Homo sapiens: one gene and its partners. The protein of the gene in region 5 purifies or fractionates together with the protein of the main gene of each other region. This does not show direct contact. Each region holds a gene or a part of one and is shown on either strand. Other genes may lie near its edges.

Region 1 (3,500 bases), on a different chromosome or scaffold from region 5:
GAACTGTCTATTTTGGGTGCCTCCACACTAGAGCTGCAGCCTCTAACTTCATGTGTTCCAGATGTTCCAGGGGGTCACAAATGTGTCATGAATTTCAACAGGGTTATACAAACACTTTAAAGCTTCATTCCACTTTATTTTTTAGAAAACAATATAATTCTCCCTGGAACTAGAAACAAAGACCTGCCAGTAAAGGTTTCCCAGTTGTGCCTGTTTAGATGACAGAAAAGAGAGGGAAGTTCACAGTGGGCTTGTTGATGTAGATGTGTCAGGGGAAGCTTCTTGGGGGTCTTGAAGGAGATCACTGGACGGAGAGTGGTGGGTGGGTGGGGTGGGGGTGGAGGGATCACCGCAGACAGAGGAAACTGTGTGTGGAAATGCAGGAGGCGTGGAAATGCAGGAGGCATGGAAATGCAGGGGCATGAAACTGTGGGCACGTGCAGCAGAGGGATCACCGCAGACAAAGGAAATTCTGTGTGGAAATGCAGGGGCCGTGAAGCTGCGGGCGCATGCAGCAGTCTGTATGTCGTCCCATTCATGCAGGAATAGAGGGAAACAGAAGAGACAGATGAACAGGCAAACGCTAGTGGGACCATGTGATGCCCCAAGTGACATGCTGGGATGAGTGGACCTTATCCTATCGGGCTTTAAAAGCAACTGTGGTAAAATACACTTAACATAAAATTACCACTTTAACCATTTTAAAGCGTATGATTCGGTAGCATTTAGTATATTCACACTATCTTGTTGCAGAATATTTTCACCACCCCAAAGGAAACCCATATACATCAGTAATCACTTCCCACTCCCCCTCTCCCCATCAGCCCCTGGCAACCATTAATCTGCTTTCTGTCTCTATAGACTTGCCTATTCTGGATATATCCTAGAGGGTTTTAAGTAGGGTAGTGACATGCTTATGTTTGCATTGTAGAAAAATGACTTAATGTCTAAGGAGAAGGCTAATTTGGAAGGGAGTCATACTGGTACAAGGAGGCAAATTAGGAGACTACCAAATCAGGTGAGAGGATGTGGGCTCATGGGAGGGATGGGGAGAAGGGGAAGGAGAAGAGGGTAGTAAGATGGAACCAATAAAATCAGTGATTAATCCGATATAAAGGTTAAGTGAGACTTTCTCTACCCATCCCCAACAAATCCTCCCCATTTCAGGCTTCTGACATGGGCAGATTTGCAAAGGTGGTGCTACTCACCAGGAAAGAGAAAAGAGCCACATGGGAGCTGCAAGTTTGGCAGGCAGAATATGTAGGATTGGTTTATTGTTTCTGCTTTCCAGTATAGAAAGATGCATACCCTCAAGAGAATCTGCTTGTTGTGGTTTCTGATTTACATGTAAGTTCTTTTCACTACTTTTATGCCATTCCACATTTACTAAATCTTATCTTTTAGTTTGCTTTCAGACACTAACTATAAGTAGAAATAACGTAAATAGCATTCAAATAAAAATATATTGAAAAGGTACTTGGGAACGAGAATAAAAAACAAGCCAAAGCTTGTTAGCAGACACTTCCTAACAAAGAATGCAATAAGTCACTTTCGAAAGAATGAAAAAACAGCAGAGATCAAGGCTGGGAGTTGCTTCAACAGCACTCAGGGAAACGATTCTTGAGGTCTCCCACTGTACACCTCTGGTGTAGCAAATGGTTATTGAATAGAATGAGAAAAGGAGCTTCTAGGTGCTTCAGGAGACCCACATGTAGCCATCATAATGGTACATATTCTAGAGCAGTTAAAACTTTTGGTGCTCCTTTACAACATCCCCAAGGGGCTTCCTATGTACACCATCTTAATCAGTTGCAACAATACTGTTTGTAATTTAGGACTTCCACTTCTGACTGTGACACAATAGCATGTACCAAACCAATCTTATTCCACAGAAAACAATAGAAGCTGAATTAAAAAGAAAATAAGCTGTTTAAAGGTATCAGAGAGCAACCAAGCCTTGAGAGAGGCCATGATCGTAGAGAAAAGGGAATCACAAGGAAGTGAGCCTAACATTTTGTGCTGCTTTTCCCTTTGGGAAATTCACCAATTTTTAAGCTTCTCTGACCAAGACGCCAAGTCAAAAGCGGCAGATAAGAGAATGAAAAGCTCATTAGTCTTACGGTGCTTGAGAGACCAAAAAACAAAAACAAAGAAAACCCCAAAAGAAACAACAACAACAAAAAATTGGAGTTGCAAGCCTGTCAAGGAGGGACAGCACTGGTAAGCACTGCAGGCTTTCCATCAGATCCGTGAAAGACAATGCCTTGGAAGTAATAACAAACCAGAAACAGGTTAGTCCTCACAAACCTTGAAATCAAGCACTGAATCAATCGTCTCAATCCCAAACTTTATCAAGGTGATATGCCTCTACTCTGTATGCCTTCTAGAAAAAATTAAATCCTTTTGGAAGAAAAATAACATTTTTCTTCATATATTTTTTGTACATTTTCTTCAACATTTAATAAAATTTAATAGGCATGACAAAGAACAAGAGCAATGACTAAAATTTAAGGAGAAAAAAAGATAACAGAGACCACAAATGATCCAGATATTAGAGTTACCAGGTACACATTTTAAAGTAACTGTGAACAAAATATGCAAGATGTTAGGTATAGAAAAATAATTCACAAGATAATTAGAATATATACAAGAGAATCAAATGGAAGTTCTTTAACTAAAAAGTTACTCATTCATTGTTCATTGAAATTAAGAACTCGATCGATGTTTTAGCAATAGATTAGGCATGCAGAAGAAACACTATATGAACTGGAAGTTAGGTCAGTAGAGGATATCCAGACTGAAGCATGGAGAATAAAGGTATGAAAATTCAAAAAAAAAAAAAAAGAAGAAGAAGACGACATGAAACCATGAAACATTTAACTTATGTTTAACTGGAATTTTAGGATAAAATGATAAGGAAGAAATGGGGCAAAAGAAACAAATAGTAACATTCAGAGATACTGACTGAAAAATTTCCAAAATTGACAAAAGTTACCAAGCCAGTTTTGAGAAGCTCTATGAATCCTAGATAGAATAAACACAAAGCAAACTAACCACATCATAGTACACATAATAGTATATTAGTAATAGTATATTACACTATAGTATGTGTATGTGCACACACACACACACACACACACACACACACACAGAGAGAATAGCATTTTGCTAAAAGCAAAGACAGAGAAAATCTTAAAAGCTGTCACAGAAAAGGAAACAGTACTTTCAGTACCTTCAAAGCAGCAAGAAAACTGACTATTCAACAGAAACAATGAAAGCTGGAAGACAGTGAAATAATATCTTGAAAGTTCTTAAATAAAATATCTGCCAACCTAGAACTTGTATAGAAATGAAGACCTTGTAAAGATATTTTCAAGGAAACAAAAAATTGGAAAAGGTTTTTGTCAGCAGACCTGCACTAAAAGAAGTACGAAAGACTGTTCTTCAGACAGAAGGAAAATTATCCGTAATGGAAACATGAAAATGCAGAGGAGAATGAA
Region 2 (3,500 bases), on a different chromosome or scaffold from region 5:
GTGATTCTGCTGTCTCAGCCTCCTGAGTAGCTGGGATTATAGGCGCCTGCCACCACGCCTGGCTAATTTTTTATATTTTTAGTAGAGACAGGGTTTTGCCGTGTTGGCCAGGCTGGTCTCAAACTCCTGACCTCAGGTGATCCACCCACCTCAGCCTCCCAAAGTGCTGGGATTACAGGCGTGAACCACCATGCCTGGCCTCAATGGCTATTCTTTAAACAATGTTTGTAAACCACAGCTGCACAATGCATGCCTAAGAGCGTGTGTTCTATAGCAATGAAAATACAGAAAATACACTCACTGGGAGGGCTCTTAGAGGAGGTGCTCTCCTTAATCGCCGTCTCAAACATTTCGGGCCTATAGACAAAAGAGAAAAAAAATGTGCTGATCAAACAGTAAAACTCTAACATTAAAATTTAAACAACTCAAAGATTTACAAACCAGTAACTCTGTAAAGTCTAAATTCAATTCTTAGTCATGAAGAACAGAAATCACATGCTTATCTAAAGAACCACAGCCAAAAAGACAAACCACAATTGTAAATTTAACATCCATTGCTGCCTCTCATTGGCTGCCCTTCCCCTACACTGGTTTTATTGGCATCTTCTTTCCAAGGTTAGAATGTATCCTGAAAAGAATCAGCGCCAGAATTGAGGATGCAAAGAGAAAACGCCCCACAAACGCAGCATGGAAACACAAGATGGGCTGTGAAAACAGGAGCACTTGAGGCTCTCACTCCGGAAGCAGAAGCAGAGGGCTTAGAGGCTGCCAAACCTCTGCAGACCTGGCCAAAAGCATAAAAGGTGGCCATTGGCCGGGCGCGGTGGCTCACGCCTGTAATCCCAGCACTTTGGGAGGCCGAGGCAGGCGGATCATGAGGTCAGGGGTTTGAGACTAGCCTGACCAACATGGTGAAACCCCTTCTCTACTAAAAATACAAAAATTAGCTGGGCATGGTGGCACATGCCTGTAATCCCAGCTACTTTGGAGGCTGAGGCAGGAGAATCGCTTGAACCCAGGAGGCGGAATTTGCAGTAAGCCGATATCACACACCACTGCACTCCAGTCTTGGGTACAGAGCGAGATTCTGTCTCACAAAAAAAAAAAAAAAAAAAAAAAAAAAAGTGGCCAGCTTTGCTTGAGAGCATCCCTGGGTGACTCAAAATTAAGCCTGACACCAAGCAAATGAAACCTAAAATTCATTTCAATTGATTTCAAATAATTCATGTGCATTAGCATGTACTATAAAATTCCAATTATTCTTATTTCTTTTTTTAATTTTTTTTGAGACAGAGTCTTACTCTGTCATCCAGGCTGGAGTGCAATGGCACGATCTCCTCCGCCTCCTGGGTTCAAGTGATTCTCCTGTCTCAGCCTCCCTGAGTAGCTGAGATTATAGGTGCCAGCTACCACCCCTGGCTATTTTTTTTTTTTTTTTTTGTATTTTAAGTAGAGATGGGGCTTCACCATGTTGGCCAGGCTGGTCTCGAACTCCTGACCTCAAGTGATCTGCCTGCCTTAGCCTCCCACAGTGCTGGGATTTATGGCCGCACCCGGCCCATTCCTATCTATTTCAATTATGTTAGCCTAATCCACAGATGTTCAAGCAAACAGGAGAAATTGAAAATATTCTATTAAGTTGGAGAAATAAAAGGACTTGAAAAACTAAACAGCTGCTCAGATTCCAGCAGCATCAAATAGTAACAACATAGCTGTGTAGATTTAGCAACCAAAAGTCGTTATCTCTCTAGTATGGTGGAGTCCTCCTTCCCTTCTACCAGCAGCATAAGGAAAATTTCTTCTTCTTTTTTTTTTTTTTTTTTGTTTTTGAGATGGAGTTTTGCTCTTGCTGCCCAGGCTGGAGTGCAGTGGCACGATCTTGGCTCATTGCAACCTCTGCCTGCTGGGTTCAAGTGATTCTCCTGCCTCAGTCTCCCAAGTAGCTGGGATTACAGGCACGTGCCACCACGCCCAGCTAATTTTTGTACTTTTAGTAGAGATGGGTTTCATCATGTTGGCCAGGTTGGTCTTGAACTTCTGACCTCAGGTAATCCACCTGCTTTGGCCTCCCAAAGTGCTGGGATTACAGGTGTGAGCCATCGCACCTGGCCAGAAGTTTTAAACATATACAAGAGTGCAGCTTAAAAAGCAGTTTTTCTGACTCCAGAGCTAATTCAGCCCTGCCACAAACACAAACCCACATACCCATCTCCCAGTGTCAAACACAATCAACTCATGCTAATCCCACTTCATCCAGTTTCCTTACTTTTTAATGATGAACTTAATTTTGGCTTTGTTTCTGAGTATCTTCTCCAGCCTCGGAATGCCAAAAGTCGATGGTCTTCGGAATGGCACACCCTCAGGTAAGCCTTCCACATAAAAGTCTTCCGGGAAAGACTCAAATAACGCGAACGGCACCTTCACAGCTTGTTTAAGGCCAAGAGCTTCCCCTGCAAAACAGCCGCGTACACGAAACAGAACATGGGCGAAATGACGCCATTCAATCCCGAAAAACCCACACGTTGCCAATGACAGGGATACTCCAACGCTCAGTATCCCACTCTGCTCCCTCCTACTCCCATGAAGGCACCCTGCGTGGCAGTAAGAAGGTTTCAAAATAGACTTACCACATTTCTCATTGAAGAGATTTTCAACTTTCTGTTTTAGGTCCGTGATTTTGGCATTCCAGGCCTCTGCATATAAAACATAAGAGAGTTAAATTGCAATACTTATCACAGTACTTATCAATACACATTCACAGGCAGGAGTGTTTCATCTTATTTGTGCATCTTATTTTTTTTTTGTTGAGACAGAGTTTCGCTCTTGTTACCCAGGCTGGAGGGCAATGGTGCGATCTCTGCTCACTGCAACCTCCACCTCCTGAGTTCAAGCAGTTCTCCTGCCTCAGCCTCCTGAGTAGCTGGGATTACAGGCATGCGCCACCATGCCTGGCTAATTTTGTATTTTTGGTAGACACGGGGTTTCTCCATGTTGGTCAGGCTGGTCTCGAACTCCCAACCTCAGGTGATCCGCCCACCTCGGCCTCCCAAAGTGTTGGGATTACAGGCGTGAGCCACTGCGCCTGGCCTTATTTGTGCATCTTTAAGAAGAAATAAAAAATGCATAATCTTTTACCATGATATGACTTGACAACTACTCCCATCCTGATACATAAGCAAACTGTTTTAGTACATTGCTTTTATGTTGACTACAAATAAGTGAACAAATGCTAAAATAAAGAAAAAACAAATGAAAACCCCCAAAATGCCCCCACAAATTATAGTCTCTACTACATGCGAGGTATGGTTCTAAGTACTTTAAATGACAGTATTTATAATCCTCACCATAACCTCATGAGAAAGAAAGTAATGTTATTACCATTTTGCACAAAGGGAAACTGAGGCAGGGTGTATTCGCCTGCCCAAGTGGCATCGGATTTGAACTCAGATCTGAACTCAGGCAGCCTGGCTCTACGGGCTATTCCTTTAACCTTTGATATA
Region 3 (3,500 bases), on a different chromosome or scaffold from region 5:
TGTGCGCTTGAGGACGGTGAGGGGGGCCACCCCATGGGACAGGACTTGCCACAGGCTTTCTGAGCAGCCCTGCCCCCCTCCCCCTGGGCTCTGGGAGTGCCTCTGCCCACCACCCCAACTCCAAAACCTCTCCTTTCCAACCTGCAGCCGCTCCTGCAGTCCGTCCTAGGACGTACTTCCTTTCTCAGGACTTTCTGTTTTACACATTTTGCAAGTTCATGAAAACTGTGCAATCCAAGCTTTTTCCTCTACAGATGAGTGGAGTGACGTTTTCTTGTCAGAAAGCATTTTTCTGAGTGATGAAATCTCCCTGGCTGAGCACCACAGCCCAGATAAATATGATGGTGGCGCACAGCCCTTGTCCCTTTGAAATTCTCACCAGAGGCTTGGAACCAGCTATGAGCCAGGGCGGGAAGTGGCTGCCTGTGCGGGTGGCTGGCTCCTTGGCTGTGCCCAGCTCCTCGGCTGTGCCCAGCAGCGCCGTCCCCAACGTGCTCCTGAAGCTGATGGCTGGGGTTGGAATCCAAGCACCTGCACTCATGGCCCACAGGGGAGGCTCCTGTCTGTGGAACGGGGACGTTCATCTCCTCTCGGGGTCGCTGTGAGCACGGGGTGGGCACAGGGGCCATGTGTGTGCTGAGTGCTGTGTTACTGTTACTAGTTTCTCTCTGGAACAGCTCTGGCCCCCGTACACCCTTGGCGTCTGGTTGTAGGGTCCAGGCCTTGTCCAGTGACCCTCGAAGGGTGCACCTGGCTCCCGGGGTCCCTCATGCTGCGCCCTGACCACACCCCAAACCGTGTCTCCTGCAGGTGCAGACAGATGAGCTATGGCTCCTGGGGTCCCTCATGCTGCGCCCTGACCGCACCCCAAACCGTGTCTCCTGCAGGTGCAGACAGATGAGCTATGGCTTCCGGGGTCCCTCATGCTGCGCCCTGACCGCACCCCAAACCGTGTTTCCTGCAGGTGCAGACAGATGAGCTACGCCCAGGACCTGCCCCAGGTCTCCGTGGTCTTCATCTTCGTCAATGAGGCGCTGTCGGTCATCCTGCGCTCCGTGCACAGCGTGGTCAACCACACGCCCTCCCAGCTCCTCAAGGAGGTCATCCTGGTGGACGACAACAGTGACAACGGTGAGTGGGCGGGGCCTCGGCACGGTGCTCGCCGGGCGGCTGCCTGTGGCTGGGTTGAGTTGGGGTTGGGTGGAGCCTCCGGGGGCAGAGCGACAGAGGACTGCACCCCATCTGTCCGCAGGGGCTCTAAACCTATGGGGGTCCCTCCTGCCTTCCAGCCTCTGTCATGGCTGCGTACGTGCTGTCCCCAGTGTGTGGCTGCCAGTGCCTCTCTCTGCCTCCATTATGCGGCCTCTCCCATGTGTCTGCATCCTCTCTTCTTCTCATGAGGACCCAGACTAGACACAGAGCTCACCCCAAATCCAGGAGGATTTCATCTCAAGATACTCAACCGGATACATCTACAAAGTCCCTGCTTCCTCTCCTCTCAGGCTCCGGGTGGAGATGAAGTTGGGGTCAGCCACCCCCTTCCACAGAGGCCAGTAGAGCTGAGCTCTCCAGAGTGCCAGTCACGCCTCCCACCTCTCTTGCCCACAGAGGCTCACACCAGAGCTTGGCTGGACAGAGCTCGCAGCTGGAGCCCAAGCCCCATGGTTCCTCAGCGCCACCCTCCTCAGCTTCAGGTCCCCTGAGGGCAGTGCTACTCACACCCTGTAGCACACAGGCTTGAAACCCCAAACAAGGATCTTGCACTGCCCCAGGCCTGTCCCCCATCTGCCCTTCCCAGGCGCAGAGCAGAGAGCCTGCAGCCGTGACACTCCCTCTGGAAATGGAGGAAAACATGGGGAGCCCCTTCCTGACCCCTCGTGGAGGCAGGAGGCTGTGCCATGGGGCTGTGGGGCAAGCTCTGGCCTGCAGCAGTGCCCTAGCCCAGCAGCACCGTCTACACTGGGGTCTGTGTGCAGAGGACTGAATGGCGTGGCTGCCCTCCTGAGCCCTGTCTCGCTGGAGAAGGTGGTGTGTGGGGAGGACCATCCAGTCCAGCTCGGCTACCTGTGTCTTGCCCTTGGCCACAGGGAGCTCCATCAGGACACCCTGCCCCCAGCATGGAAGGCCACGTTTGTGTGTCCACCCATCCATGCATGGACTTGGTTTTTTACAGCTGACTGCAGTCCTGTGTCTCCACAGCATGGGCTGCTGTCTGTCTCTCTGTCTGTCTGTCTGTCTGGTGTGTTTCCTTATTTGCTGTGTCTCCCACTGGAATGTCAGCATCATGAGGCTGGGGTCTCATCTCTCTGTGACCTCCACGCTGAACCACATGTGGTTCAGTGGGTCCTAAGAGAATGTTTACAATACACCCATCCCACACGCGGCACGCAGCATTTCCAGCCTTGGGTCTTGGTGGCCCCGCGCCTGCCAGCACCTGCCAGCGTGCTAAAGTCTTGTCTCTCCTCAGTGGAACTCAAGTTCAATCTGGACCAGTACGTCAACAAGCGGTACCCAGGCCTCGTGAAGATTGTCCGCAACAGCCGGCGGGAAGGACTGATCCGCGCGCGGCTGCAGGGCTGGAAGGCGGCCACCGCCCCAGTCGTCGGCTTCTTTGATGCCCACGTCGAGTTCAACACGGGCTGGTAAGGGCCGGAACAGGCTGGACAGCCAGTCTCAGCGGGTCCCCCTCCACCATCCCCCTCCTAAGCCGCCGTGCGGCTGCAGCCTGGCCGCTGGGTTGGCCCCGGGGCTGGGAGACTCGCCGTAGCCTTCAGGATCTGGGACTGAGAGCCACCACTGAGTCCACCTGTGCGGTTACCTCTGCGGCCTCTCTGTGTCCAGCTCCTGAATGCAAAACCACGGGAGGGCAGGCCCAGCACGCACCCAAGGACATGGCGCTTAGAAGCTCCCAGGCATGTGTATGAGGCTTGGTCTGTGCCCACCTTGCCCCAGGAGAATGTGACCCTGTCCTGACTCCAGCAGGCTCGGGTACCGTGTGTCCCCCGCGGGGTGGGAACCTCAGATCAGGTGGGGTGGGGCTAAGGTGCAGAAGTCCGGCCTCTCAGGCCCTGCTCAGTCACTGGAGATGGCCACGAGTGCCCCCGAGGCCTTAGCCTAGTGCAAGGGGCGTGGGAAGTGAGCTTCTGGGCTGAGGGGGTCACCTTGTGTATGGGGTCCTGGGGCCACCAGCACAAAGCAACCCCTTCTGGGCGGCTCGGAGCAGCAAGACTTCACCTCCTCACCGTTCTGGAGGCCCAGAGCCCGACTCCAAGGTGTGGGCAGGGCCCGACTCCAAGGTGTGGGCAGGGCCGAGTTTCCCCCAGAGGCTCCAGGCCCTTAAGGATCCCTCCCACCTCTCTCAGCTCCTGAGGGCTGCAGCCCCCACCTCCGACCCCCACGCCCTCCCTGTGTCTGTTTCTCCATCCCTGCCTTATGCAAGGACCCTTGTCATTAGAGTTGGGGCAGTCCAGGATGCCCCCAGGCAAACCCCAAAGCCAGCC
Region 4 (3,500 bases), on a different chromosome or scaffold from region 5:
TGCCGTGTTGGCCAGCTTGGTCTCGAACTCCTGGCCTCGAGTGATCCGGCCGCATCAGTCTCCCAAAGTGTTGGGATTACAGGCATGAGCCACTGTACCCCACCCAGGATGTGCTTTGAAACTTGGCCTGCACCTATACAGGCATCTGCACCGTACAAATGAGCACACTGATGTCATGCAGCACCATGCTCAATCCAATGCCAAACCAAGTGTACCACGTCACACGGCCATAAATCTTAGTGTAGTTTCAGCAATTCTCACTAAACCTGAGATGCAGTAATACACTCAATTTAACAATGCAGGCTCACAATGTTTCCATGCGTCAAATTGTAGCTAGAGTGAAAACCATGAAAATAAAACTGGAATGTCTGGAAAACACAAACACATTTGACTGCTTTTAAACTCTGATTTTTTGATGGAAACAAACTCAGGACTTAAAAGCCCGACACTGCTCAAGTCAAAATATTACAAAATATACCTGAAAAGCATTTTCTACCAAATAATGAAGACGAAACTGGCTGAATCTGTCCACGGCCACCCTCCAAAGGTCCCCAGCGCTTTGATTCTATCTCATATAGCCCAGTTCCCTCCTCGACATTTAATGTGTTCAAAAATATAAAGCCAAAAGAAAATCATATTCATAAGGCAATTTTAAAAAGAATTGTTTTAAATAATCTTTTGGACTCATTAGAGGCGAAATAGTAGGTTACATGCAAATTTGGCATTTGCTATAGTATTGGGCAAATATCTGCTGTGCCACTGTAACCTCTACTTGCAAACAGCCAAATGCCAGCTCATATAGTATCTGGTCTTCCTGAACTTGTCTGTCTCAAAGCTAGTACGATCATGTAAGTTATTGCCTTACCAAATCACTAAGACATCAATATGAACACCACATGCCATTTAGACTTATTGTAAAGAGCTGAATTTTCATTTTCAAATATAGATAAGCAGTCTAGATATACTTTGAACAAATATAGCCTTATATGTCTTTTTCGTCAAATTTCTGATAGTCAAAATGTAAACGTACTATTACAAGATTAAAATTCTACAGTATTTATAATTGTGAAGGCTGTTGATCTCATGTAAAGAAACATTTAGGAACTCTGAAATATTTAAATACAAACAGAAACTAACAGATAAATGTTTATTTCCTCTGGGTACAGAGAACAGCCTGGGCAACAAAGCGAGGCCCTGTTTCTACAAGAAATGTTTTTAAATTATGTTTCTTATACAGCTTTAGGAACAGCATCATCTTTTTATGAACCAAAAAATGTTTATTAAATCTTTGTAGATTTTAACATCAAACAAAATGAGAGGTATATTTAATTTTTAGTTACTTACTTCAAATTTAGCTTGTGTCTTTTAAGAAAAAATCCTATTTGGGCTTTTTAGAGGATAAGTTAAAAGGACCACTGTCATCTTTGCATATTAAAAATTCTCAAGTGGTAAGGACTCTGTAAATATATACAACATCTATGACAAACCATCCTCAATCTAGACATTAAAAAGCACGTAACAGGCGAGGTGCAGTGGCTCATGCCTGTAACACCAGCACTTTGGGAGACCAAGGTGGGCGGATCACTTGAGGTCAGGAGTTCAAGACTAGCCTGTCCAACATGGCAAAACCCCAACTGTACAAAAAATAGAAAAAATAGCTGGGTATGGTGATGGGGGCATGTAATCCCAGCTACCTGGGACGCTGAGGTGGGAGGATCACCTGAGCCCAGGAGGTGGAGGTTGCAGTGAGCTGAGATCATGCCACTGCACTCCAACCTGGGCAACAGAGACCTTGTCTCAAAAAAAAATATAAGTAAACAGCACATAAATAGAATGATAATAAGGTGCACTCTGAACAATTGGTTGTCAAAACAATGCTTCTATAAGAATGCTTTAGGATAATTTCTCATTGTTCTGAGTCTATGGAAAGTAAGAAAAAAATGAAACTGGCCCAAGCTATGGTCCTATACATAACTTTCCTTCTAGAAAATGTAATTTCAAAAAACGTTTTCCTAAATTATATTTCACTATGTACCAGAGGATTGGGAAGAATATTACATGATCTATTCCTGCATCTTGAGCAATACAGAAAATTACCAGAAGTCCTGGAAAGCTTCTGCTTTACTTGCTTGCTGAGAGATTTAGTACCCTAAAACTGACAGATGAATTTGAATAAATAAATGTTTAGAGAATACAGCTGCCAAGAAACTGGCATTGGCCAGGAATGGTGGCTCATGTCTGTAATCCCAGCACTTTGGGAAACCAAGGCAGGAAGATTGCTTGAGCCCTGGAATGCAAGACCAGCCTGGGCAACAAGGTGAAACTCCATCTCTACAAAAAAATAAAAAAAATTAGCCAGGCGTGGTGGCATGCACCTGTAGTCCGAGCTACTCAGGAGGCTGAGGTGGGAGGATCACTTGAGCCTAGGAGGTCAAGGCTGCAGTGAACCGTCATGACATCACTGCACTCCAGCCTGGGTGACAGAGTGAGACCCTGTCTCAAAATAAAATATAGAGAAACCATCATTGATAATGGAAAAAGCCAAATATTAGAAACCCAGATCTACAATGTTTTGTTCATACCCTTCAGCTGTGTGTTCAGAAAATTAAAGCAAACAAAAACATAGCTGGCTGTTGGCAGAGAGCAATTCACCTTCATTCTTCAACTACAGACAACCTGCAGATTCTAAGAGTTTGGTAATTACCTTGTCATATACCCAGACACATTGTTAAACAAGGTGGAAAAGCAGCTATGAAATGTTAAAAGGGCTGATCAAATCCAAGTGTAACTGTAGTTTGCAGAGAATAATAAAAAACTAGCAAGCCTTATTGACATCGTATGGTTTCTCCTAGTTTGTTGGAGCCTGCAGAAGAAAATGCCCACATGGAGGTGCCTTAAGAGCACACCTCTTCCCTATAGACACATGCTGAAACGTTCCTCCTGGACAGGAACTTCTTCATCTTAAAAGCATTTCTTATCCCGTCTCTGCGCTTCTAAACACAAGGTTTTAGAAACAAATGTTTCCAGGTGATTGTGTGAAGCAGCACATACATGCATCACTGCTAAAAATACAAACATGCCCGAGGAGAATCGTAATCCTGTCTTCTTAAAATATTTTAGATGGTTTGGCTCTGTGTTCCCACCCCAATTTCACCTTGAATTGTAATATTCCCCACGTGTCAAGGGCAGGACGAGGTGGAGATAATTAAATCCCCGGGCCGTTTCCCTCATGTTGTTCTCACAACAGTGAGTTCGTTCTCAGGGGGAGATCTGATGGTTTATTAGGGGCTTCTTCCTTTGCTCAGCACTCATTCTCTCTCCTGCCACCCTGTGCAGAGAGATCTTCCGCCATGATTTTAAGCTTCCTGAGGCCTCCCCGGCGATGTGGAAATGTGAGTCAATTAAGCCTATTTCCTTTATCTATACATTACTCAGGTATGTCCTTATAACAGTGTGAAAATGGACTACTACAGTATCAGACCTCTACTTCAAGTACAACA
Region 5 (3,500 bases):
CGGTGGAAAGGCTCCAAAGCAGCAGGAAGCGGGAGGCTATGGAGCCCTGGGCTGCCGGTCTATCCACCCATCACAGTACCCACCGCATGCCTTCAGTACCAGCCAGGGTCAGCACCGACATCTGATGCCCTTTCCTGCTCCCCACAGACACCCAGGGAGACGTGGCCTGAGCTTTGCCCATGCCCGCAACAGTCACCATGAGATGCTTCCAGGAAGAACAGCAACGGACGCTTCCTGATCCTTCCCTTGCAGGCCAAACACCACGGCCGCCCTGGACCTTCCTGGGACTAATCAGAGGGCCCCGCACAGCCAGTACCAGCTGGGAGGGAAACCCCCTCAGCACTTCCTCCTCCTGGCCTGAGCCTCCTTCTCCCTTCATCACAGGGTGGTCTGCAGGCCTCTATCGTCCCGAGCCCCGGAGTCCTCAAGGGTAGGATGGAGCAATTACCTCATGGGAGAACGCACCATGAGGACAAATACGGAGCTGGCTTCCAAGGACCCTGTGAGCATCTGCTCCCAAACAAGCGTATGCTGCCTGTCCCATCCACAGCACTTCTGAGACGGCCATTTGAGATCAATAGAGCAATCTCTCTTCCTCCCTCTCCCCCTGCTTCCATCTCGTCCTGCTTTACTTGTTACAGTTTTTTTTTGTTTTTGTTTTTGCTATAACTTCTGTACACTGAGCATCTGTACACCAACTATATACTGTTCGCCACAGCATCCTCAGGGGTGGCATTCTCTAAGTCACTTGCTTCACCACTTTTATGTTGTTTTTTTTTTTCACATACACATGAAAACTAATATGCAACTCTCAAAACAATTTCACCGGGGTATTTTCTAGTTCCTTGCTCTAAGCCTGGCTGTGCACCCCCACCCCAGCTTGTTTCAGGAGAAGCTCATTTCCAGAGGACACAGCCCCCCTCTTGTTTCTCCCCAGGTGCAGCCCCTCGACCTGTTCCTCCCCCAGGCACGAGCTCTGTCCTCGACCCCCTGGTGACACTAGACCTCTGGCCGAGATCCCCACACTTAATGGGCCATCCTTTCCTCACCAGAAATAATGGAGTCGTTCAGCGCCTCCTCGTCCTGATACAAAAGCAAGTCGTCTTTGAGTTCAGAATTTATGATCAGGTTCTCCTTGTTCTCCTCAGATTCCTTAGCGGCAGTTCGCTTGTTCTCCAATGCCCCGTCAAAGCTCCAAGCCTCCTCCCTCTCCTTGCCCCGCTCCACGCTGGACGTTCTCGACAGACGGACATCCAGCCGCTTCTTTGGAGACCCTTTACTTTCTCTTCCTTGAAAACTAAACCAGAAAGATGGTTCAGGTTATAGGTCACCCCCTTCACCCAGAAACCCAGCACGATTGACTTTGGAGCTTATAATGAATATCACAGAGGCAGCCCCAAAATGCATGTGACCTCTTGGTTTTTATCCTGGACACACCAGAAGGAGCATGAGGATTTGAGTTCAAGGCAAATGGCTGTTTACAACATGCTGTTTTGAAAAGCACAGAACATGCAAGTAATAAAACCTGCCAAAATACATGCAATCAATGTTCAGGGCGAGGACTTCACAAAAACTGAGAAGGACATTTTGTTTGTCTAATATTCCTCCAACCCATACTGTCTCCTATTACCTATTTTACCTCTAATCTTTCACAGTCCATGAGACACATGTGATCCAAAATAAGAGTAAGCTGCAGGCACAGGCTGCCTTACACTCTTGCCCAGTGACAACTATGAAGCCCTCAGTGTCCTGGGACAAAGTGGAACGGCCACTTTTCTCTAAGTCAGTCTCTCCTGCAAAGCTCCCACCCCACCCTGGGTCCTGAGGGGCTCACGCACAGGACTTTGTGGCCAGGTTCCCATAGTGCACATTCACTGTGCACCCCGTCCCAGAATGTGGGAACCAAGATCAGCTATGCAATCTGCAGAGCGAGGTGCAAAATGAAAATGTGACTTCCTTGTTCAGAAAGTGACTGTAGAACGGGACACCCAGCCAAGGCCCTGGGCGTGGCATGAGCTGCACAGCCTGAGGCTGGCCAGGCAGGGATTCTGGCAGCACAGGTCTCCCTCATGGGGCAGGGCCTCACCTGTCCTGGCGGTGCTTCGTGGCCAGCGCCCTGTGCAGCTCCTCAATGACGCGGCTTGGGGGAAGAGGCCGGTGGACCGTGGTGAGATGCGGAGACCCCGTGGGTGTGGAGAGCTGGCCCCGGAGGGAAGGGTCGGCACTCTTCATGCTGGAGGCTTGGAAGAGTGTGGCTTGGCCTGGGGTGTGGGAGGAAGCAGCAAGAACATAGGTCTTCAGGAGCTGGGACCAAGGGTTTTGCTGAGACTGGGGACCATGAGCGGAAAGGACGCTCCCCTGCACCTCCAGGAGGGGCCCCAACTAATGCCAAGATGCTGGACCGGGATCCCTGCTCCCAAAGCTAGAGGCCAGGGTGCATCTCTGTCCAGTTCTGCTCCATCTGTAGGGCAAACCCTGTTAGGGGCCAAGCCTTGCAGACACCAGCACCAGCATCCTCCCTGCAGGGCGCTGGGCTTAGAAAAGCCTCCTTCCTGCTTCTCTGCTATGAATTCAGCTTCCTGAAGCTGCTTCTTGTTCTTGGGAAACCCGGAAGAATCTGTGCAGCCACCCTTCAGCCTGGATGAGCACCATGGTCCGCTCTGCCCTCCCCACAGCATCTGTTCCAGCACCTTGGGCTTGCACTTCCAGCCCCCAGAACAGTAAGGAATAAATTTCTGGGCTCCAACCCTCTCCCTGTATCTCTGCCAGGAGGATCACCCCAGAAGGTGAATTGGATCACTCTCCCATCTTCCTTAGGACATGATTCGAACTCATGGCCCAGTCTCAAGGCCCCTGGGGGTGGCCCCACTCGGCTCCCTAGCTGCATCTCCACCTCACTCTCTTCACTCCAGCATGTGAAGATCTCTCCCGTCTTTGAAGGCACCACACTCCGTCCAACCTGAGTCTTTGCATGGGCTGTTCTTTCTGCCTGAAATGCTTCCCCGCTCCTCTGCTAGAATACCATTTCCTTAGAGAGGCCATGATCAGATCCCTCGTCTCCTGTCCCCTGGGACCTGAGCCTGCCCTGACACTTTTCCTCTTACTTGGAGTGAATCACGCTGCCCAGTCTGTTTCTTGCTCCTGGGCAGGCCTGTGTCCACCTTCCTTCCTACAGTTTCCCCAGGCCTGGCACTTAAAACACGGGCAATAAACACTTGTGTACATGAAATGACTTTGAAGATGATTCTAAACAGGCTTTGCTCATTCAAGTCTAAATGAGTGGGACACCCCCTCCTTCCATCAATGACAGTCTCCTGCATGTGCTCCGGGCCAGCAGGGTGTCAGGTGCCCGGAAGAGCAGAGAGCATGGGCTTTGTCTTCTGCAGATTTGGCCTCTGGTCTTGATCTGCCATTTCCCAGTATGCAAGACTCTGGGCAAGTCACTGAAGCTCTCAAAGGCTTAGCCTACTTGCCTGTAAAATGAGACCATCAGCTCCTTT
Region 6 (3,500 bases), on a different chromosome or scaffold from region 5:
ATTTAGAAGTCTACCACATCTTTACATTTTAATCTAAGCCTTCCTCTAAAAATTATGACTATAATTGGCTTCATGTAATTTTGCACAGACAAAAAGTTATCTCATATTCAAAGGTTAAAAGATTTTAGGCGTTTCAGGTTTGCTATCCTAAAAAGAAAACTTAAGATTAATGCTAGAGAAAACAATGATTTAATCAACAATTTCTTACTATGCCATTTCTATATACATGCTTAAGCAGACAGGATTCCTAACCTTGTTCAGTCTAGACCAATCCGGAAGAAAACACAAATGCAATCATTCAACATAAACTTGTCGTCCTTTCATAAGTATAACTAAAAAGAACCAGGCCTCCTTGAAGGAACAGCTGATTCAAGAATAGGGACTGGGCCAGGAACAGTGCAAGATGAACCTGGAAAATATTTTGCCATAAGTGTTCAAGAAAGATAAAAAGATAGAGAATCTCCCATCCTTCATTTACAAATCAAAAAGAGAAAAAATAAGGCTGGGCATGGTGGCTCACACCTGTAATCCCACTTTCGGAGGCTGAGGCAGGCAGATCACTTGAGGTCAGGAGTTAGAGACCAGCCTGACGAATATGGTGAAACCCCATCACTACTAAAAATACTAAAATCAGCCGAGTACGGTAGCACACGCCTATAGTCCCAGCTACTCGGGAGGCTGAGTCAGGAGGACAGCCTGAAACCAGGAGGCGGAGGTTGCAGTGGGCAGAGATGGAGCCACTGCACTCCAGCCTGGACGATACAGTGAGACTCCGTCTCAAAAAAAAAGAGAGAGAGAGAAAAGATATTTAACTTTACAGTGGCAAAACCTAACTAATCAAAATTCATATCACAACTAAATGACATAATATGCCTAATGTGAAGCACTGAATGACACCCATAAAGCATCCTACAAAAAAAGTGTGCTCTTCAAAAATGTCAATGCAATAAAAAAAAACAAAAGATTAAGGAACAAGTGCAGATTAGAAGAGACTAGAGACATGATAGCTAAATGCAATGTGTAATTATAGATTCCATGTTGGACAAGGAAAAAAAATTACTGTTAAGACATTATTGAGATAATTTCCAAATTTTAAAAATGGATTATAGATTATATTGCATCAACATTTCCTGAATTTGATAACTGTACTACAGAATGGAAGAGAATTATTCTTAGGAAATGCCCACTAAACTATTTTAGAGAAAGAATTATACACATGTGGGCAAGTGGTGACAGCTGCTCTAGGTAAGGAGTATATAGGAGTTAGTGTACTATTATTCCAAGTTTTCTGTAAGTCTGAAATTTCAAGTGTTTTTAAAGATATGCACAACAGTTCATTGTTTCTTTTTTCATGTATTGGATCACTACAAAATAATCATTCCTACACATACCTCAGGAGCAAGGACAAACGTTTGCATGAATCTCCTCAAAGCCTGGTTGTTGTTAGAGAGAAGCCCCATCACCTGGACTACCACACCATCATTTAGCGTGGCATGAGCATCAACATGGCGAATCTTGGTGTGGCAGTTGGTGAAGTTTTGTGACATCACTTTCCTGTGGATTTCCTTAAAAAAATAATAATAATAATAATAATCAACTGAGAATGCCTTAAAATTTAAATAACCTCCAACTAAAAAAAACCTTCCAACACAACACAAAGAGAATGTGTATATTTAAATTACAGGATATGCAGACTGAATTTTGATGTTTCTTTGTATACTCTATTCCCAGTGACCGCGCTTGAGTTTTTTAAATAACTGTCCTGAATTAACACACTTTTCAAAGTTTAGAAAAGATGATCCCCATGCTAAAGCCAATTATCTTCCAACACACAAAAGCTTTAGAATATATCATACAAAATTAACAAATCTGACATCACATAAGTATTTCAACAAATATATTAATCAAATAGTAATAAAACACATCAACTTTTACTAAAAAGTTGAGAAACTGGATCTTTATCAGCAAATCTATTAAGTATGATCCACTTCAATTTTATGAGTTATTTTCTACCTGCTTAACAGCCTAAATAAGGCTTGAAATGCTTACTTTCTGTCCGTAGACTGCATCTGCTGGCTTTCCATTTGAATCCAATCCCCCATGGACATAAGAAGAGTTCTTTCCATAAAATCTGTAAAATGGGAAGATGATTTACTTGTCATCTTCAAGTATCTTAAGTTTATTTTTCACGTCTGATACTGGCAAACTTTTTTTTTTTTTTTTGCAACGGGGTCTCATTCTGTCACCCAGGCTGGAGTGCAGTGATGCAATCATAGCTCATTGCAGCTTCGATGTGCCGGGGCTATGATCTTTGATGTGCACATTTTTTTTTTTTTTTTTTTTGCTCTTGCTGACCAGGCTGGAGTGCAATGGCACCTCAGCTTCCCAAAGTAGCTGGAACTACAGTCACATGCCACCATGCCTGGCTGATTATTTTTATTTAAGTAGAGATAAGGTCAACTATGTTGCCCAGGCTGGTCTCGAACTCAAACTCAAGCAATTCTACCTGCCTTGGCCTCCCAAAGTGCTGGAATTGTAGGTGTGAGTCACCGCGCCTGGCCCTGGCAGAAACGTTTTCTTTTTCATCTTTGTATGCAATCATCTCTGTATCCCCTACATGCCACTTGATCAACATTTGCTGAATGGGAATGGATTTGGTTCCAGGTTTCAGTGTAGGATGATACTGTTGGGAAGGATCTTGTAGTTTCATGTCAAGATGGCCACCAATACATAAGTTCCTATTTTCACTCAGGAAGAAAATGTGCGGTAAGGCTGGAACAGCTATCTTCTTCATAGACTTCAAGTGTCCTTTTATTAATGTATCTGAGAATAAGCGTGAGCGGTTCCCCTTAAACACCTAGTTCATGCAAGTGGTTTTAGAAGTACTTTTTAACTATTTCTGCTGATGCAATTAAGAATGTCAAAGTCAATTCCTCATGGTTTTCACCCATCTATGTCCTCCTTTGATCCATTTTCATTAAAACAATATTCTACCAGGAAAGCAACACACCAAAATGCTCTAATCCAGGGATAACCACTATTAAGATTTGACATTTGTCTTCCAGATAAATACATTTTTTTTTTTAAGACAGAGTCTTGTGCTGTTGCTCAGGCTGGAGTGCCATGGCGCAATCTTAGCTCACTGCAACCTCCGCCTTTTTTTGTATTTTTAGTATAGAGAGAAGGCTTTGCCATATTGGCCAGGCTGGTCTTGAACTCCTGACCTCAAGTGATCCGCCCACCTCAGCCTCTCAAAGTGCTAGAATTACAGGCATAAGCCACCATGCCTGGCCTATGCTTTTTTCTTTTTGTTATGTTTTATGTCAGTTTTATTCTATGGGGTAGAAAGAAATTAACCAAATATAAAAATACAAAAAAAGGCTGGGCACGGTGGCTCACGCCTGTAATCCCAACACTTTGGGAGGCCAAGGTGGGCGGATCACCTGAAGTCGGAAGTTCGAGACCAGCCTGACCAACACAGGGAAACCGTCTCCACCAAA
Region 7 (3,500 bases), on a different chromosome or scaffold from region 5:
CCACCGTGCCGGCCAGATTTGTGTATCTTTTTAGTGTTTCGCATTGATGGAATCTTCCATTCAGTGGAAATTTGTTGAGTGCCTGTTATGTGCCTAGCAAGTGAAACTGAAGGCAGAAGTTGTATTCTAGGGGAGCTGAGATTCTAGGGATTCTTATCATAATAGTCTGACTTGGTTATTAGAATCACCTCCAGTAGATTACTTTGGGGTAAGAGAAAGAGGGATAAGTACTTGGCTGTATGTTTACCAAAAACGGAATTTAAATCATTAACAGTCCCTAATTCATGAATAGAGCAATAAAGAAATCAAAAAGATAATGGCAGGCTCTCTCAGATATTTTTGAAATGTATTCTGAGGAAACACCTATATTCACTCTGATAAAAGCTAGATAAAAGGCCTAAATTTTCTGCAGTAGTCAATTTAAGAACAAATAACTTTTCTAGATAGTGGCATTTTTCCTTTGTGACATAGTAATGCAGATTCACTTTGTAGCTAACTTTTGCAAAGAGTTCCTGCAGAGCAGCTTTTTTTCTACTTTGTATTCCTCCATGTTTTTTTCTGCTGCCACTGCCCACAGAGTTCAACTTTCTGTTTATGGGGCCGATGTAGGACTCAATGTAATAAAGCAACAGCAGTGTCTTGAGAAAGAAGTTTCATTAGCAAATAAAACATTTGCTAATAAAAAATTTGCTTCTAATTTTTAAAGCTGAAGAAACGTGCCACACTGGAAGGATAATCCACGTCACCTTGTTAAAGGTGATCTTGGCTAGGCGCGGTGGCTCACGTCTAATCCTAGCACTTTGGGAGGCCAAGGCGGGTGGATCACTTCAGGTCAGGAGTTTGAAACGAGCTTGGCCATCGTGGTGAAACCCCGTCTCTACTAAAAATACAAAAAAAAAAAAATTAGCTGGGCATTGTGGTGCATGCGTGTAATCCCAGCTAATCGGGAGGCTGAGGCAGGAGAATCGCTTGAACCCGGGAGGCATAGGTTGCAGTGAGCTGATATCGTGCCACTGCACTCTAGCCTGGGTGACAGAGCAAGACTCCATCTCAAAAAAAAAAAAAAAAAAAAAAGGTGATCTCTTAGACTTAGATTTAATATACTGCAATATGTTGTCCCAGAAGCGAAAGACATTTACAATTGGCTGGAAGTAGAATTTGAGCCACTAAAACTCTGTGAGCAAGTCATTCGGTGATCACTGATGGGTAGCATTGGACCAACAACTAGGGCATCTAGATTAGAGTCCTCATTGTGCCCACAGAGTGTAGACTTCTAGAAGGATACCAGTTAGTGTCAAGTGAATGGATTAGCTGACTGCCAAGAGGCATTTGTCAACTTCTTGAGTTGACCATATATCCAAGGTCAATACCTGAGCGTTAGGCTTCCATAACCAAATTTATGAGACAGAGTGATTCCATTATCTCAGGAAAAGACTCAAACATTCCTAAGAGTGACTTTTAAATCGGAAAGTAAACCAATCATGTATTTTAGTGAGAAATATAATTTAGTAGATTATGGCAGCCTTTCACATTTCCCTATTCGGAAGGGGACTGCATGAAGAATCTAAAATAACTTGATAGGAATGAAATTAGAGCTGGGAATTTTTTTTTTTCTCTTAAAGGCAGATTCTAAGTTAGGGAATTTTATTTGTATGCATATACCACACCTTATTGCAGTAAAGATATATGGATGCTTATAAGGAGGAAGTGTTAGAATGTTGTAGGATTTCAGCCTTGTACCCATTTTACATTAGAGTTAACCTTAGACCTGAGTGCTCCCATGTGTGGGTGCCCTCCTTGCTTGGGGATGCGATCTGCCAATATTTGCCTCAGTTTTGTCACCCACTCTCTATGGGTACACACTTCTGTGCTTTGCTCTATCCCAGCAGTTATTTTGTCCTTGGGTTAACAGTTCCTAAAAAAAATGACATATTCCATGGTAAAATTGAAGTCCATATAAATGGGGTAATATGTGAAATTCTTTTCTCACCGCTATGTTTGTGAGATTTATTCATGTGTTCTATGTAGCTGTTCTTTTTTGAGCATTTTTGTTTATTTTATGAATACACCATATGTGAATTCTCCCCAGTTTGGGGCTATTAGAAATAGTGCTGCCATGATAATTTTTGTGTGATAATTTATATAAAAGTAAAACTGGTATTTTCCTTGTTATTGGTAATAAAATATTCTATTGGCCACAGTAGTTGTCTTTGTGAATATTTAATTGGTTGTAGTTGTGTTTTTTAGAGTTTCATTTCCTTTTTACATACTTGTGGGGCTTTTCACGGTAGGTTAATGTGCATAGTGTGGGGCAAAAGACCCAGCATAGTTGTACTTTGGATTCATTTTTGGTAAATTTAGAGGAGGTTGAGGCTTGATGATTTTTTAAATCATTTTCCAGATTTCCAATGCTATCATTTATACTAAGTTCAGAATTTTAGTTGGAAAATTTCCTTTGGCAGTTACATCTTTTGTTTTGCTTACTGTAGGTCAGATTTAATGTACTACAATATGTTGTCCCAGAAGTGAAAGACCTTTACAATTGGCTTGAAGTAGAATTTAACCCATTAAAACTCTGTGAGCGAGTCACAAAGGTAAGCCTTTGTATTTAAGTTCTGGTTGTTACCACAGAGTTGGCCTTCTTGCAGTTTTGGGTTGTATTCATATTTGTTAAGAGAGAAGTTTTGTCCTATGTGTTGGAATTCAGTGCACATTTCATTGTCTTTTTTCTTTATTTCAAGAGAAAAGATATATCTGATGTGCTCAGCAAACCTTTGGAGGTTAATTAGCAGCATGACTAATTTAGCCATTGCTGCCAGTCACCTTCAAACAAGTATCAGTAGCTTCATGATACATTTTGTATTTCTTTGCATTGGATGATGTTTTTGTATATTAAAAAAAAAAGAGTTTTAGATGTTTTAGTATCTCTTATGTAGAAAGTGTGATTCTCTTTCAATTTAATGGATTTTATAGGTTCTAAATTGGGTTAGGGAACAACCTGAAAAGGAACCGGAATTGCAGCAGTATGTGCCACAACTGCAAAACAACACCATCCTCCGCCTTCTGCAGCAGGTAAAAATAAAAAAATAAAAAAAGTTTTGTGATGTTATGTGCTCATCATGAAACTAAAAACTGGAAAAATCTAGAACTGCCTAGGAAGTGAGAACCTCCCCAAGTTCTGCCCCTGGCAAAAATTAGTCTATTTATTAATTTGAAAATCAGAATTATTATATTTACATATTTTGTAACGGACGCTTTTGTTTTTTGGCTGAACACTGTCTTTGGGCATTTTTCCTTGTTAGTAATGTAGGGCTACCTTATTCCATTTAAGGTACTGTGGTGTATTTATTCAGACTCTCTTGATGAAAACCTGTATTCCTAGATTTTTTTTTTCCCTGTTAGAAATCTTGTAGCATTGAGCATCTTTCATACATGTATCTTTGCATACTTCTATTACTTTCTGTGGCATAAGAAGTGGAATTAGTCATAGGGTTTATGGA

The links.
Region 1: the proteins of PHACTR3 (region 5) and CPVL purify together in Homo sapiens (affinity purification with mass spectrometry; one large-scale study listed by BioGRID and IntAct). This does not show direct contact.
Region 2: the proteins of PHACTR3 (region 5) and GTF2I purify together in Homo sapiens (affinity purification with mass spectrometry; one large-scale study listed by BioGRID and IntAct). This does not show direct contact.
Region 3: the proteins of PHACTR3 (region 5) and GALNT9 purify together in Homo sapiens (affinity purification with mass spectrometry; one large-scale study listed by BioGRID and IntAct). This does not show direct contact.
Region 4: the proteins of PHACTR3 (region 5) and NSUN2 purify together in Homo sapiens (affinity purification with mass spectrometry; one large-scale study listed by BioGRID and IntAct). This does not show direct contact.
Region 6: the proteins of PHACTR3 (region 5) and G3BP1 purify together in Homo sapiens (affinity purification with mass spectrometry; one large-scale study listed by BioGRID and IntAct). This does not show direct contact.
Region 7: the proteins of PHACTR3 (region 5) and EIF3A purify together in Homo sapiens (affinity purification with mass spectrometry; one large-scale study listed by BioGRID and IntAct). This does not show direct contact.

Annotation. Positions count from the first base shown.
Region 1 is NC_000007.14:29,000,038-29,003,537, forward strand, and holds part of CPVL (probable serine carboxypeptidase CPVL isoform b precursor), read right to left. Parts: intron 1,348-3,500; exon of another isoform or gene 1,292-1,347; intron 1,019-1,291; exon of another isoform or gene 932-1,018; intron 1-931. UniProt on the Homo sapiens protein: May be involved in the digestion of phagocytosed particles in the lysosome, participation in an inflammatory protease cascade, and trimming of peptides for antigen presentation.
Region 2 is NC_000007.14:74,748,218-74,751,717, reverse strand, and holds part of GTF2I (general transcription factor II-I), read right to left. Parts: intron 2,694-3,500; coding exon 2,628-2,693; intron 2,451-2,627; coding exon 2,267-2,450; intron 358-2,266; coding exon 302-357; intron 1-301. UniProt on the Homo sapiens protein: Interacts with the basal transcription machinery by coordinating the formation of a multiprotein complex at the C-FOS promoter, and linking specific signal responsive activator complexes.
Region 3 is NC_000012.12:132,260,090-132,263,589, reverse strand, and holds part of GALNT9 (polypeptide N-acetylgalactosaminyltransferase 9), read left to right. Parts: intron 1-964; coding exon 965-1,131; intron 1,132-2,467; coding exon 2,468-2,642; intron 2,643-3,500. UniProt on the Homo sapiens protein: Catalyzes the initial reaction in O-linked oligosaccharide biosynthesis, the transfer of an N-acetyl-D-galactosamine residue to a serine or threonine residue on the protein receptor. Does not glycosylate apomucin or SDC3.
Region 4 is NC_000005.10:6,626,545-6,630,044, forward strand, and holds part of NSUN2 (RNA cytosine C(5)-methyltransferase NSUN2), read right to left. Parts: intron 1-3,500. UniProt on the Homo sapiens protein: RNA cytosine C(5)-methyltransferase that methylates cytosine to 5-methylcytosine (m5C) in various RNAs, such as tRNAs, mRNAs and some long non-coding RNAs (lncRNAs).
Region 5 is NC_000020.11:59,772,040-59,775,539, reverse strand, and holds part of PHACTR3 (phosphatase and actin regulator 3), read right to left. Parts: intron 2,262-3,500; coding exon 2,087-2,261; intron 1,298-2,086; coding exon 1,050-1,297; intron 1-1,049.
Region 6 is NC_000005.10:151,788,954-151,792,453, reverse strand, and holds part of G3BP1 (ras GTPase-activating protein-binding protein 1), read right to left. Parts: intron 2,132-3,500; coding exon 2,050-2,131; intron 1,566-2,049; coding exon 1,392-1,565; intron 1-1,391. UniProt on the Homo sapiens protein: Protein involved in various processes, such as stress granule formation and innate immunity. Plays an essential role in stress granule formation.
Region 7 is NC_000010.11:119,060,318-119,063,817, reverse strand, and holds part of EIF3A (eukaryotic translation initiation factor 3 subunit A), read left to right. Parts: intron 1-2,489; coding exon 2,490-2,594; intron 2,595-2,706; exon of another isoform or gene 2,707-2,835; intron 2,836-2,973; coding exon 2,974-3,072; intron 3,073-3,500. UniProt on the Homo sapiens protein: RNA-binding component of the eukaryotic translation initiation factor 3 (eIF-3) complex, which is required for several steps in the initiation of protein synthesis.